Linked DNA regions of Homo sapiens. The protein of the gene in region 1 purifies or fractionates together with the protein of each later gene. This does not show direct contact. Each region holds a gene or a part of one and is shown in the gene's direction. Other genes may lie near its edges. The genes, in order: PPFIBP2, SPECC1L and SNAP29.

Region 1 (3,651 bases):
CTCTGAGCACTAGGCCAGACAGCAAAGGCCGCTTTGCAAGACAGCTTCACTTCCTGTTAGAGTCAGTTTCAGTCAGCCCCAGATTTGCACTTGACTCTGTCCCTGTCTTACTGTGTGGCCTTGGGAAAGTTTCTTCCTTCCTTGGAACTCTGGTCCCCTTTCTCGGACTAGCTAAATAATCTTTGAGGGGTGTTCAAGTCACCATATGTGAAAAATGGCTCTTGCAAAACAGGGAGTTGTTCTGTATCCAAGGATTTCCTAACTGAGGCTGACAGTTAAGTCGGTATCTCTCTCTTTCTCTCACCTTCCAATAGGACAGCCCTTTCTTGGCGGAGCACAAATATCCCACTTTACCTGGGAAGCTTTCAGGAGCCACGCCCAATGGAGAGGCTGCCAAATCTCCTCCCACCATCTGCCAGCCTGACGCCACGGGGAGCAGCCTGCTGAGGCTGAGTGAGTGTCCAGCCCTGGTGCTGGTGGCCTCTGAGCAGTGTCCTTGGCACTTTCAATGATTGTATAAGATCCCTGCACCTACCACCACAATCCACAATTGGAGAATGGTGGGGTGGGTGGCTGGAACAAGTTGTACCTTGGGGTGGTCCCACCTCCCCAGAGGCTCCCCCTGGGCGAGCTGTTTTCTAAGGTCAGCACTCTACAGTCTCAGCAAACCAGGGTGTGTGTATCCCCTACTTCTTTTCGGCTGCAGCTTTTCACCCTTATTTCCTCTCTTCTTCTCTTCCTCCTCTCGAACTCTTTCCTGTCCTTCCTAGCATTGTTTTCCCTCCTCTCAGACACCCCCTTCTACCCTTCCTGCCCCTGGTGCTTCCTTCCTCTGTCATTCTGATCTTCTCTCTCCTGTCTCCACCTTCTTCTCTGCAGCTTCCCTATTCCCCGTAGGAGGGTATCATGCACTCCAAGTGGGAGCATTTCCTTAGGCAAATGAAGTCAGTGGCCAATGGGCAAGGGTGTCGGTCTGCAGGTATCCTTTCGGTGCGTAAGACCTGAAACCACAGAGGCTTTTGCTGCTTTTCATTCAAAATAAGCCATCTTTCCCCACCAGCAGCAAAAGATTCAATGGCCCCGGAAGGGAACATTCTGGTCCTGGCAGGGTTCTTCCTGAGGCTCCTCAGCCTCAGCTCTTCCCTGAGCTGGCCCATGCATTGGCCTAGTGAAGGCCAGCTCTGCCGTTGGCTGCAGGAACTTCAGATAAACCCTTGAATGAGTGTGTTCTAGTGACACTCAAACTGGACTCACTATGGCTTCAGATTGTTCTAGTCTGAGCTGAGTGAGCCCAGGCACCTGCACAAGAGCTGCCTGTGGCCTGGAGTATTCAGCCCCTGCTGCTGTCCCTTCCTTTCCCTGGGTGTGGACACCTCAGCCTGTCACAAAGGGGCCCCAGGAACACTTGGTCCCCTCACATGAAACCTCTTCTCAGTGTCAGTCACCACTCACCCCCTCCTTCTCCATGGGATTATTTTTCTTTCTGTTTGAGTTTTTCTCTCTTGCTCGATGACACTCTTTTGTTTATTTCTTTGCTTCCCCGTAACTCTGTTGGGCTGGACTTTGGCCTCTCTTGTTTCTTCATGTGGCTTCTCTGCTTCTTGGTTCACTGGAGATCGTGGCCGGAGTGTCAGTGCCCCCGTATTAGGTACTGTACCCATTCCAGGTGAGGTGGAGAGTGAGAATGCCTTTGTTTCCCTACCCTAACCCTCCCCTTCACCAGCACTCAGCCAGGGACCCACTACTGCCTGCGTTCCTGCATCTCCCTCTGAGGAAAAAGAAGCTGCTTGTTGGAATAATCCACAAGTACTTTGGACCCCAAATCCTTAAAATTAAAGACATTAGCTCACCTAGATTTGAAATATTGAGCACACTAATTTCTCAGCAAGGAAGCCTGGAGTCCCCACTAGTCTCTGGGATCTTGGTATGGAGTTCTGCCCTGAAGGCAGAACTGGGCAGATTCTCTGGACTCCCACTGAAGGGGAGGGCCCAGGCTTGGGGAAGAAGGGTTCCAGGGGTCACATCCTTACATTCACATTCATTGCCTTCTTCCAATCTCAGGAGACACAGAAAGTGGCTGGGACGACACTGCTGTGGTCAATGACCTCTCATCCACATCATCGGGCACTGAATCAGGTCCTCAGTCTCCTCTGACACCAGATGGTAAACGGAATCCCAAAGGCATTAAGAAGTTCTGGGGAAAGTAAGTTGGTGCCGTTGATCCTAATTATATTGCTTAGAATTTTTCTTTTTGATTGGGCAAAGAGTCTATGTAAGCCCCTGGTCCAATAGACACTGAAACAGCAGTCAAAACAGAGTGTTCATGTTCAAAGAGAAGAATCTGAGATATTTTCCAGGGCCAAGAGAAGGAGAAGTATGAAAGACACCCATTGAATATATCCAGTTGCCTTTCATGTCATGCATCCTAAGCACCCACCCATTCCACACACCCTGAACATAATCTCTGCAGCTTATATTACATTGGATCTGGCACAGACACAGATGAGACTGTATTCTCCCTTCTTAGGAGTCAGTCTGTTTTAAGAAATCTTTGAAAAACCTTTGAAAGCCAAGTACTTGCTGGCCCAACTGATCCACTTTGTGACATGAGGCAGAAACTGGGGCCTCCTACAAGGCATCAAACTTTGCTTTGACTTCTATGGCAAGTGACCAAATCCCAGAGGCAGGATCCGAATTGAGGCTTGAGTCTGGCCAAGGAGCTGCGACAGGTTGTGATCCTTGATCTCTGGGAAGGTACGGAGAAGCAGTGCTGCCGAGAGTCCCTGTGCTGGCCTGCATGGCCTTGCAAAAGAGGAAGCACAGTGACTGTAGGCTTTCTGACTATTCCATGACCGTCTCCATGGATTCTTCTCCATGCAGAATCCGAAGAACTCAGTCAGGAAATTTCTACACTGACACGCTGGGGATGGCAGAGTTTCGACGAGGTGGGCTCCGGGCAACCGCAGGGCCAAGACTCTCTAGGACCAGGGACTCCAAGGGACAGAAAAGGTAAGGCTTGACCCACTTTCCTTTGATCTCCCTGCTCTGAAAAAGAAGTATCTCCCTTCAAACCTGCATGGGTGAATCTTTACTCCTGTGTTTTGCGGAAACCCCTTTCCATATTCTCTTCCCCAGTCAAGCAGTCCCTACAGTACGTCATTTCCAGCACAATATCTCCTAAGTTCTGAGTTACTCAGCCAAGATCAGTACTCCTGGAGGTCTTCCACAGGATTGGAATGTGACATTTTATATCTAACCAAAAGGCAAAAAGTAAGCTGTAACTCTCTTCAGTTTAGTCACCTCAAGATTGCCATATACCAATGCAGAGTACAGGTAATTACTGGTTATGATATGTATCATTCAGATGTCCGTTCTCAGAAATAATATAGTCTAGATTCCAATTAAGGAAGAAAAGCATTTCCCTAAATGCATCATATTGTTTGCAGACCTGCATCCCCTGCGGAAGGGAGTCTTAGCTTATTTTGCACATGGATATGATACTGCACTTCCCTGGCTTGCCAAACAGGTTTCTAGTCTTACCAGGTCCTCCTCGTGCATGAGACCTGGGACCTTTCCAGATCCATTTATTCTTCGATGAGTATCCCCAGACTCCAGGAAGCTTGAAAAGAAGCATGAGAATGTGTAGACCAT
Region 2 (3,651 bases), on another chromosome or scaffold:
AGAAAAGAGGTTTAATTTACTCACAGGTCCACAGAGATGGGGAGGCCTCTGGAAACTTAGAATTATGGTGGAAGGGGTAGCAGGCACATTCTTCTCCACATAGTGGCAGGAAGGAGGAGAATGAGAGCCAAGCAAAGGGGAAGCCCCTTACCATCGGCTGTCATGAGAACTCACTATCACGAGAACAGCGTGAGGGTAACTGCTTCCATGATTAAATTACCTCCCAACAGGTCCCTCCCGAAACACATAGGGATTATGGGAACTACAGTTCAAGATGAGATTTGGGTGGGGACACAGCCAAACCATATCAGTATCCTCTAGATTAATTTTCATAAAATGTACTTTTCCTTACATTTCTTTCCTACTCAGGATCATTTATTGACTTAGTGTGACTCACTGAATTCTGCCTATCTTTTGGGACTCTATATGAACATTCCCCAGCAGCTTCCGTTAACTGTGTGACTGTACTTTTCCTTTCTGTGTGCCATGTTCACTTCTGCTTCCTTTCGTTGTCTGTCTTTTTGCCAGCCTGAATTCCGCATCCTCCTGTATACCTGTTCTGTTAGTGGCTATCTCCCTCTATCTGTGGAGATCATTTGCTCCCTGTTACCTCTACAGCCTGGATCCCACCACCTAATGAACCAGCAGGGTCTTTAAAAATACTTATTGATTAGATGTGGATCTTATTTTTTAACATAAAAATTTGTTATTTCTTAAGTATTTACAGGTATTTAAACATATTCCTGGCCAGGTGCGGTGGCTCACGCCTGTAAGTGCGGTGGCTCACGCCTGTAAATTCAGTGGCTCACGCCTGTAATCCCAGCACGCTGGGAGACCGACGCGGGCAGATCATTTGAGGTCAGGAGTTTGAGACCAGCCTGGCCAACATGGTGAAACCCTATCTCTACTAAAAATACAAAAAAATTAGCCAGGCATGGTGGCACGCTCCTGTAATCCCAGCTACTTGGGAGGCCTAGGAAGGAGAATCGCTTGAACCTGGGAGTCAGAGGTTGCAGTGAGCCGAAATCGCTCCACTGCACTATAGCCTGGGTGATGGTCAAGAGAGACTCCATCTCAAAAAAAACCAAAAAAACGAACAAAAAAAACTTCCTGTTCTTTTTGTATTAAACAAATGATTGTGTCAGTTTTCACAGGTTTAAAATTTTAGTAGTTAAGTAATCATGTGATTCACGTAGATTTGATTGACGCATCATCATTATTTAACATTAGTGCTTCGTTGTTTTTTACATTTAGAGAGACAGTATAACATACTGGTTAAGGTGCAAAATCTGGAACCAGACTGCCTGGGTTTCAATTTTGGCTCATCTATTTATTACCTGTGACATGTTGGCAAATTATTTAACATCTGTGTCTGAGTTTCTTCATCTGTAAAACAAGGTGATAATAGCACCTACCTCACGTCTTTAATGAGGCTTATATAAGTTAATGTATGTGAAGTGTTAATGTATTTGTATAACCAAGTGCTAGGTATGTGTTAGCTATTGTTATAATTGTTATTATTTATGTGGCATTTTATGGTGTTAAAACTATTTTGCATTTACTTTGGTCAGAGTAAAATTTTTGTGTTTCTAGTAGGTAGCTTAGATTTTTGGTTTTCCCAGAGACTGCTTTTCCCTTCTTGCCCACCTATGATCTCCCTTCACTATCTGTGTACAGTTAGTTTACCACCGACTGGCTAATCCTGGAGTCATCTTCACCTGTCTTGCCCTAGAATATTATGCCTCTGGCCAACTGGTTAAAACCCCACTTCTGGATTCAAGTTAATGTATATCATTTAAATAACAGCTTTGTAGAAATGTAATTCACATTCCATAAAATTTACTCTTTTAAAAACATGTAAAACAAAGTGTATAACTTATTTCTCCTTGATAATTAAAAGATGAATGATCTTCTGGTTTTGAAGAAATTGAACTTTAACAGACTCTAAGGCAAGATTATTGTAGATCTAAATCATTGTGTAGATCCTGGATTTCATCTCATTACACCTGGGGCAGGAACTGTGTATTCTATGTAGCCTTTTATTGCTGACATTTTTGCCTTACATTTTTTGTATTAAACACATAGGCACAGCTTCTTCAACCAAGCGGAGCACTTCTACAGGTAATAAAGAATCCAGTTCTACTAGAGAAAGATTACGTGAACGTACCCGATTAAACCAGAGCAAAAAACTACCTTCTGCAGGTCAGGGAGCTAATGACATGGCATTGGCCAAACGTTCCCGCAGTCGAACTGCTACAGAATGTGACGTTCGTATGAGCAAGTCTAAGTCAGACAATCAGATCAGTGACAGAGCTGCTTTGGAGGCCAAAGTGAAGGATCTTCTCACGCTGGCAAAAACCAAAGACGTAGAAATTTTACATTTGAGAAATGAACTGCGAGACATGCGTGCCCAGCTGGGCATTAATGAGGATCATTCTGAGGGTGATGAAAAATCTGAGAAGGAAACTATTATGGCTCACCAGCCGACTGATGTGGAGTCCACTTTATTGCAGTTGCAGGAACAGAATACTGCCATCCGTGAAGAACTCAACCAGCTGAAAAATGAAAACAGAATGTTAAAGGACAGGTTGAATGCATTGGGCTTTTCCCTAGAGCAGAGGTTAGACAATTCTGAAAAACTGTTTGGCTATCAGTCCCTGAGCCCAGAAATCACCCCTGGTAACCAGAGCGATGGAGGAGGAACTCTGACTTCTTCAGTGGAAGGCTCTGCCCCTGGCTCAGTGGAGGATCTCTTGAGTCAGGATGAAAATACACTAATGGACCATCAGCACAGTAACTCCATGGACAATTTAGACAGTGAGTGCAGTGAGGTCTACCAGCCCCTCACATCGAGCGATGATGCGCTGGATGCACCATCCTCCTCAGAGTCGGAAGGCATCCCCAGCATAGAGCGCTCCCGGAAGGGGAGCAGCGGGAATGCCAGTGAAGTGTCCGTGGCTTGCCTGACTGAACGGATACACCAGATGGAAGAGAACCAACACAGTACAAGTGAGGAACTCCAGGCAACCCTGCAAGAGCTAGCTGATTTACAGCAGATTACCCAGGAACTGAATAGTGAAAACGAAAGGCTTGGAGAAGAGAAGGTTATTCTGATGGAGTCTTTATGTCAGCAGAGCGATAAGTTGGAACACTTTAGTCGACAGATTGAATACTTCCGCTCTCTTCTAGATGAGCATCACATTTCTTATGTCATAGATGAAGATGTAAAAAGTGGGCGCTATATGGAATTAGAGCAACGTTACATGGACCTCGCTGAGAATGCCCGTTTTGAACGGGAGCAGCTTCTTGGTGTCCAGCAGCATTTAAGCAATACTTTGAAAATGGCAGAACAAGACAATAAGGAAGCTCAAGAAATGATAGGGGCACTCAAAGAACGCAGTCACCATATGGAGCGAATTATTGAGTCTGAGCAGAAAGGAAAAGCAGCCTTGGCAGCCACGTTAGAGGAATACAAAGCCACAGTGGCCAGTGACCAGATAGAGATGAATCGCCTGAAGGCTCAGCTGGAGAATGAAAAGCAGAAAGTGGCAGAGCTGTATTCTATCCATAACTCTGGAGACAAATCTGATATTCAGGACCTCCTGGAGAGTGTCAGGCTGGACAAAGAAAAAGCAGAGACTTTGGCTAGTA
Region 3 (3,651 bases), on another chromosome or scaffold:
GCTCACGCCTGTAATCCCAGCACTTTTGGGAGGCTAAGGTGGGCGGATCACGAGGTCAGGAGATCGAGACCATCCTAGCTAACACGGTGAAACCCCGTCTCTACTAAAAATACAAAAAATTAGCCAGGGGTGATGGTGGGCACCTGTAGTCCCAGCTGCTTGGGAGGCTGAGGCAGGAGAATGGCATGAACCCGGGAGGTGGAGGTTGCAGTGAGCCAAGATCAAGCCACTGCAGTCCAGCCTGGGCGACAGAGACTCCATCTCAAAAAAAAAAAATGCAATAAATTGTGAGTAAAATTTTTGTGATCCTGTCAAAACCTTTAATCCATAAATGCAGGAATACTGTCACTTAAAAACTTTGCCTTTTTTTTTTTTTTTTTTTTAAGACAATGTCTCGCTCTGTCGCCCAGGCTGGAGTGCAGTGGTGCAGTCTCTGCTCACTGTATCCTCCACCTCCCAGGATCCAGCAACCCTCCCACCTCTGCCTCCCAAGTAGCTGGGACTACATGCATGGGCCACCATGCACTGCTAATTTTCGTATTTTTTGTAGAAACAAGGTCTCACTTTGTCTCCCAGGCTGATCTCAACCACCTGGGCTCAACTGATCTTCCCGCCTCAGCCTCCCAAAGTGCTAGGATTGCAGGCATGAGCCACTGTGCCTGGCCCACTTAAAAGCTTTTTTTTTTTTTTTTTGAGATGGAATCTCGCTCTGTCACCCAGGCTGGAGTGCAGTGGCGTGATCTCGGCTCACTGCAAGCTCCGTCTCCCACGTTCACGCCATTCTCCTGCCTCAGCTTCCCAAGCAGCTGGGACTACAGGCACCCGCCACCACGCCCGGCTAAATTTTTTTTGTATTTTTAGTAGAGATGGGGTTTCACCATGTTAGCCAGGATGGTCTCGATCTCCTGACCTAGTGATCTGCCCGCCTCGGCCTCAAAAGCTTTTAAAATAAGTTTCTCCTATCAAACTTCTGTTCAGTCATGCATTTCCTGTGTACATCATTATCACACAAACCCTTCGGCCTTCTCTGAAGTTTTGTCTCTTGGGAAGCCCTGTTTGTCCTTGCTGACAGCTTTCCAAGCTGCTTGTTCTCATTTCCACTTACAGCTCATGCGTTCCTGTCACATATGCACCCTTAATTTGAAATTCTCTAACTTATTTAAGACTTGGTTTCTGACCAGGAACCACCCTCTCTTAAACCTCTACTGTCTTATCACTTTTCTCAGTCTCCCTAGAAATTGGCTTTCTTGGCTGAGCGTGGTGGCTCACGCCTATAATCCCAGCACTTTGGAGGTTGAGGTGGGCGGATCACAAAGTCAGGTGTTCAAGACCAGCCTAGCCAACATGATGAAACCCTGTCTCTACTAAAAATACAAAAATCAGGCCTGGCACGGTGGCTCACGCCTGTAATCCCAGCACTTTGGGAGGCCAAGGAGGGTGGATCACCTGAGGTCAGGAGTTCGAGACCAGCCTCACCAACATGGAGAAACCCTGTCTCTACTAAAAATACAAAATGAGCCAAGCAAGGTGGCACACACCTGTAATCTCAGCTACTTGGGAGGCTGAGGCAGGAGAATCGCTTGAACCAGGGAGGCAGAGGTTGCAGTAAGCCAAGATCGCACCATTGTACCCCAGCCTGGGCAACAAGAGCAGAACTCCCTCTAAAAAAAAAAATTAGCCGGGCGTAGTGGCGCTCACCTATAATCCCAGCTACTCAGGAGGCTGAAGCAGGAGAATCTCTTGAACCAGGGAGGTGGAGGTTGCAGTGAGCCGAGGTCATGCCCCTGCACTCCAGCCTGGGAGACAGAGCTAGACTCCGTCTCAAAAAAAGAAAAAGAAAAAAATTGGCTTTCTTTGTGGGGGAGCCATTTTTCACAAAGAAACCATTGTTTTCCTCATTTATGTATTACCAGTATATATGTGATGGCACATAGAAAGAATAAAGCCAGCGTTGAGATGTGCAGGCTGAAAGGTGGCCAGGCAGACTCAGAAGCCAAGTGTCTCTTCCTACTCCCAGCATGGCAATGCACTGCCCACAGTGGTGCTTAGAGGAGCCAGTTCTGTGTTCTAGACTTTCAGTCACAGCTTCCGTGGGGTGAAATCCTGGAGTGTTAAATCCTTCCATTCACCAGGCTCTGCTGCATTCTACCCATAGCTGGAGCCCTGGGCCTGCAAAACCCTTAGCTTGCGGGAGTCTGGACTTGCTCTTGCAAGTTGGGAGTCATTAAAGACTTTAACTGAAGAGGTGCTTGCCAGTATTGCTTTAGAAAGATGCGCAGCACCCATGGGGAGTAAGGATTGGAAGGGAGGGAATTGAATTGAGAGGCATTGCCATAATCCTTGTTAAAGGTAAAGAAAAGCAAGGCAGGCCGGGCACGGTGGCTCAAGCCTGTAATCCCAGCACTTTGGGAGGCCGAGGCGGGCAGATCATGAGGTCAGGAGATCGAGACCATCCTGGCTAACACAGTGAAACCCTGTCTCTAAAATACAAAATACAAAATAAAATACAAAAACCCTGTACTAAAAATACAAAAAATTAGCCGGGCGTGGTGGCGGGCGCCTGTAGTCCCAGCTACTTGGGAGGCTGAGGCAGGAGAATGGCGTGAACCCAGGAGGCGGAGCTTGCAGTGCGTGGAGATCACGCCACTGCACTCCAGCCTGGGTGACAGAGCGAGACTATGTCTCAAAAAAAAAAGGCAAGGCAGAAGGAGAGGCTGGGTTTCTGGGCTACTTAGGGGGTGGGAGATCAAGAGGGCGTTTGTTTTGCCTGGATTACTGGGAGTAGCGCTGTGCAGGGGGAGGGCAAAAATTGCGAGTAACCCTGATTCCCAGATTGGCTGGCGAAGTGGTCAGGCTGCTGTTGAGATAGAGGAGAGCAGGCTGTTGGGGAGGCACAGCTCCCAGCTGGAGGCACCTGCCATACCTTAGGGGGCTCAGCAGGATGTCGGGGATCAGCAGGGCATCAGGCATAGTCTAAATGACTTTGAGTTGCAAGAGCTATCCCTGTCTACAGCCAGAGTCAGCAAACTAGGCCACGGAGCAAAATCAAAGATATTTTATAGGGACTTACGTGATGAGAAAAAAACATACTTTCACAACTTTTTAGTGACAAAATTTAAAATATAAAAACAGTGGCCGGGTGCAGTGGCTCACGCCTGTAATCCCAGCACTTTGGGAGGCCAAGGTGGGCGGATCACGAGGTCAGGAGATCGAGACCATTCCGGCTAACACGGTGAAACCCCGTCTCCACTAAAAATACAAAAAATTAGCCGGGCGTGGTAGTGGGCGCCTGTAGTCCCAGCTACTCAGGAGGCTGAGACAGGAGAATGGTGTAAACCTGGTCAGCAGAGGTTGCAGTGAGCCGAGATCGTGCCACTGCACTCCAGCCTGGGCAACAGAGTGAGACTCCATCTCAAAAAAAAAAAAAAAAAGTAATAGGCTGGACACAGTGGCTCATGCCTGCATGGCTGTAATCCTGGCACTTTTGGAGGCTGAGGCAGGGGGATCACTTGAGTAGGCACCTGTAATCCCAGCTACTCAGGAGGCTGAGGCAGAAGAATAGCTTGAACCCGGGAGATGGAGGTTGCAGTAAATCGAGATCACGCCACTGCACTCCAGCCTGGGCAACAGAGCAAGACTCTGTCTCAAAAA

The links.
Region 2: the proteins of PPFIBP2 (region 1) and SPECC1L purify together in Homo sapiens (affinity purification with mass spectrometry; one large-scale study listed by BioGRID and IntAct). This does not show direct contact.
Region 3: the proteins of PPFIBP2 (region 1) and SNAP29 purify together in Homo sapiens (co-immunoprecipitation; 2 studies listed by BioGRID and IntAct, with this or other methods). This does not show direct contact.

The regions. Positions count from the first base shown.
Region 1 is NC_000011.10:7,639,418-7,643,068, forward strand, and holds part of PPFIBP2 (liprin-beta-2), read left to right. Parts: intron 1-314; coding exon 315-453; intron 454-1,615; coding exon of another isoform or gene 1,616-1,648; intron 1,649-2,061; coding exon 2,062-2,203; intron 2,204-2,880; coding exon 2,881-3,009; intron 3,010-3,651. UniProt on the Homo sapiens protein: May regulate the disassembly of focal adhesions. Did not bind receptor-like tyrosine phosphatases type 2A.
Region 2 is NC_000022.11:24,319,203-24,322,853, forward strand, and holds part of SPECC1L (cytospin-A), read left to right. Parts: intron 1-2,085; coding exon 2,086-3,651. UniProt on the Homo sapiens protein: Involved in cytokinesis and spindle organization. May play a role in actin cytoskeleton organization and microtubule stabilization and hence required for proper cell adhesion and migration.
Region 3 is NC_000022.11:20,875,893-20,879,543, forward strand, and holds part of SNAP29 (synaptosomal-associated protein 29), read left to right. Parts: intron 1-3,651. UniProt on the Homo sapiens protein: SNAREs, soluble N-ethylmaleimide-sensitive factor-attachment protein receptors, are essential proteins for fusion of cellular membranes.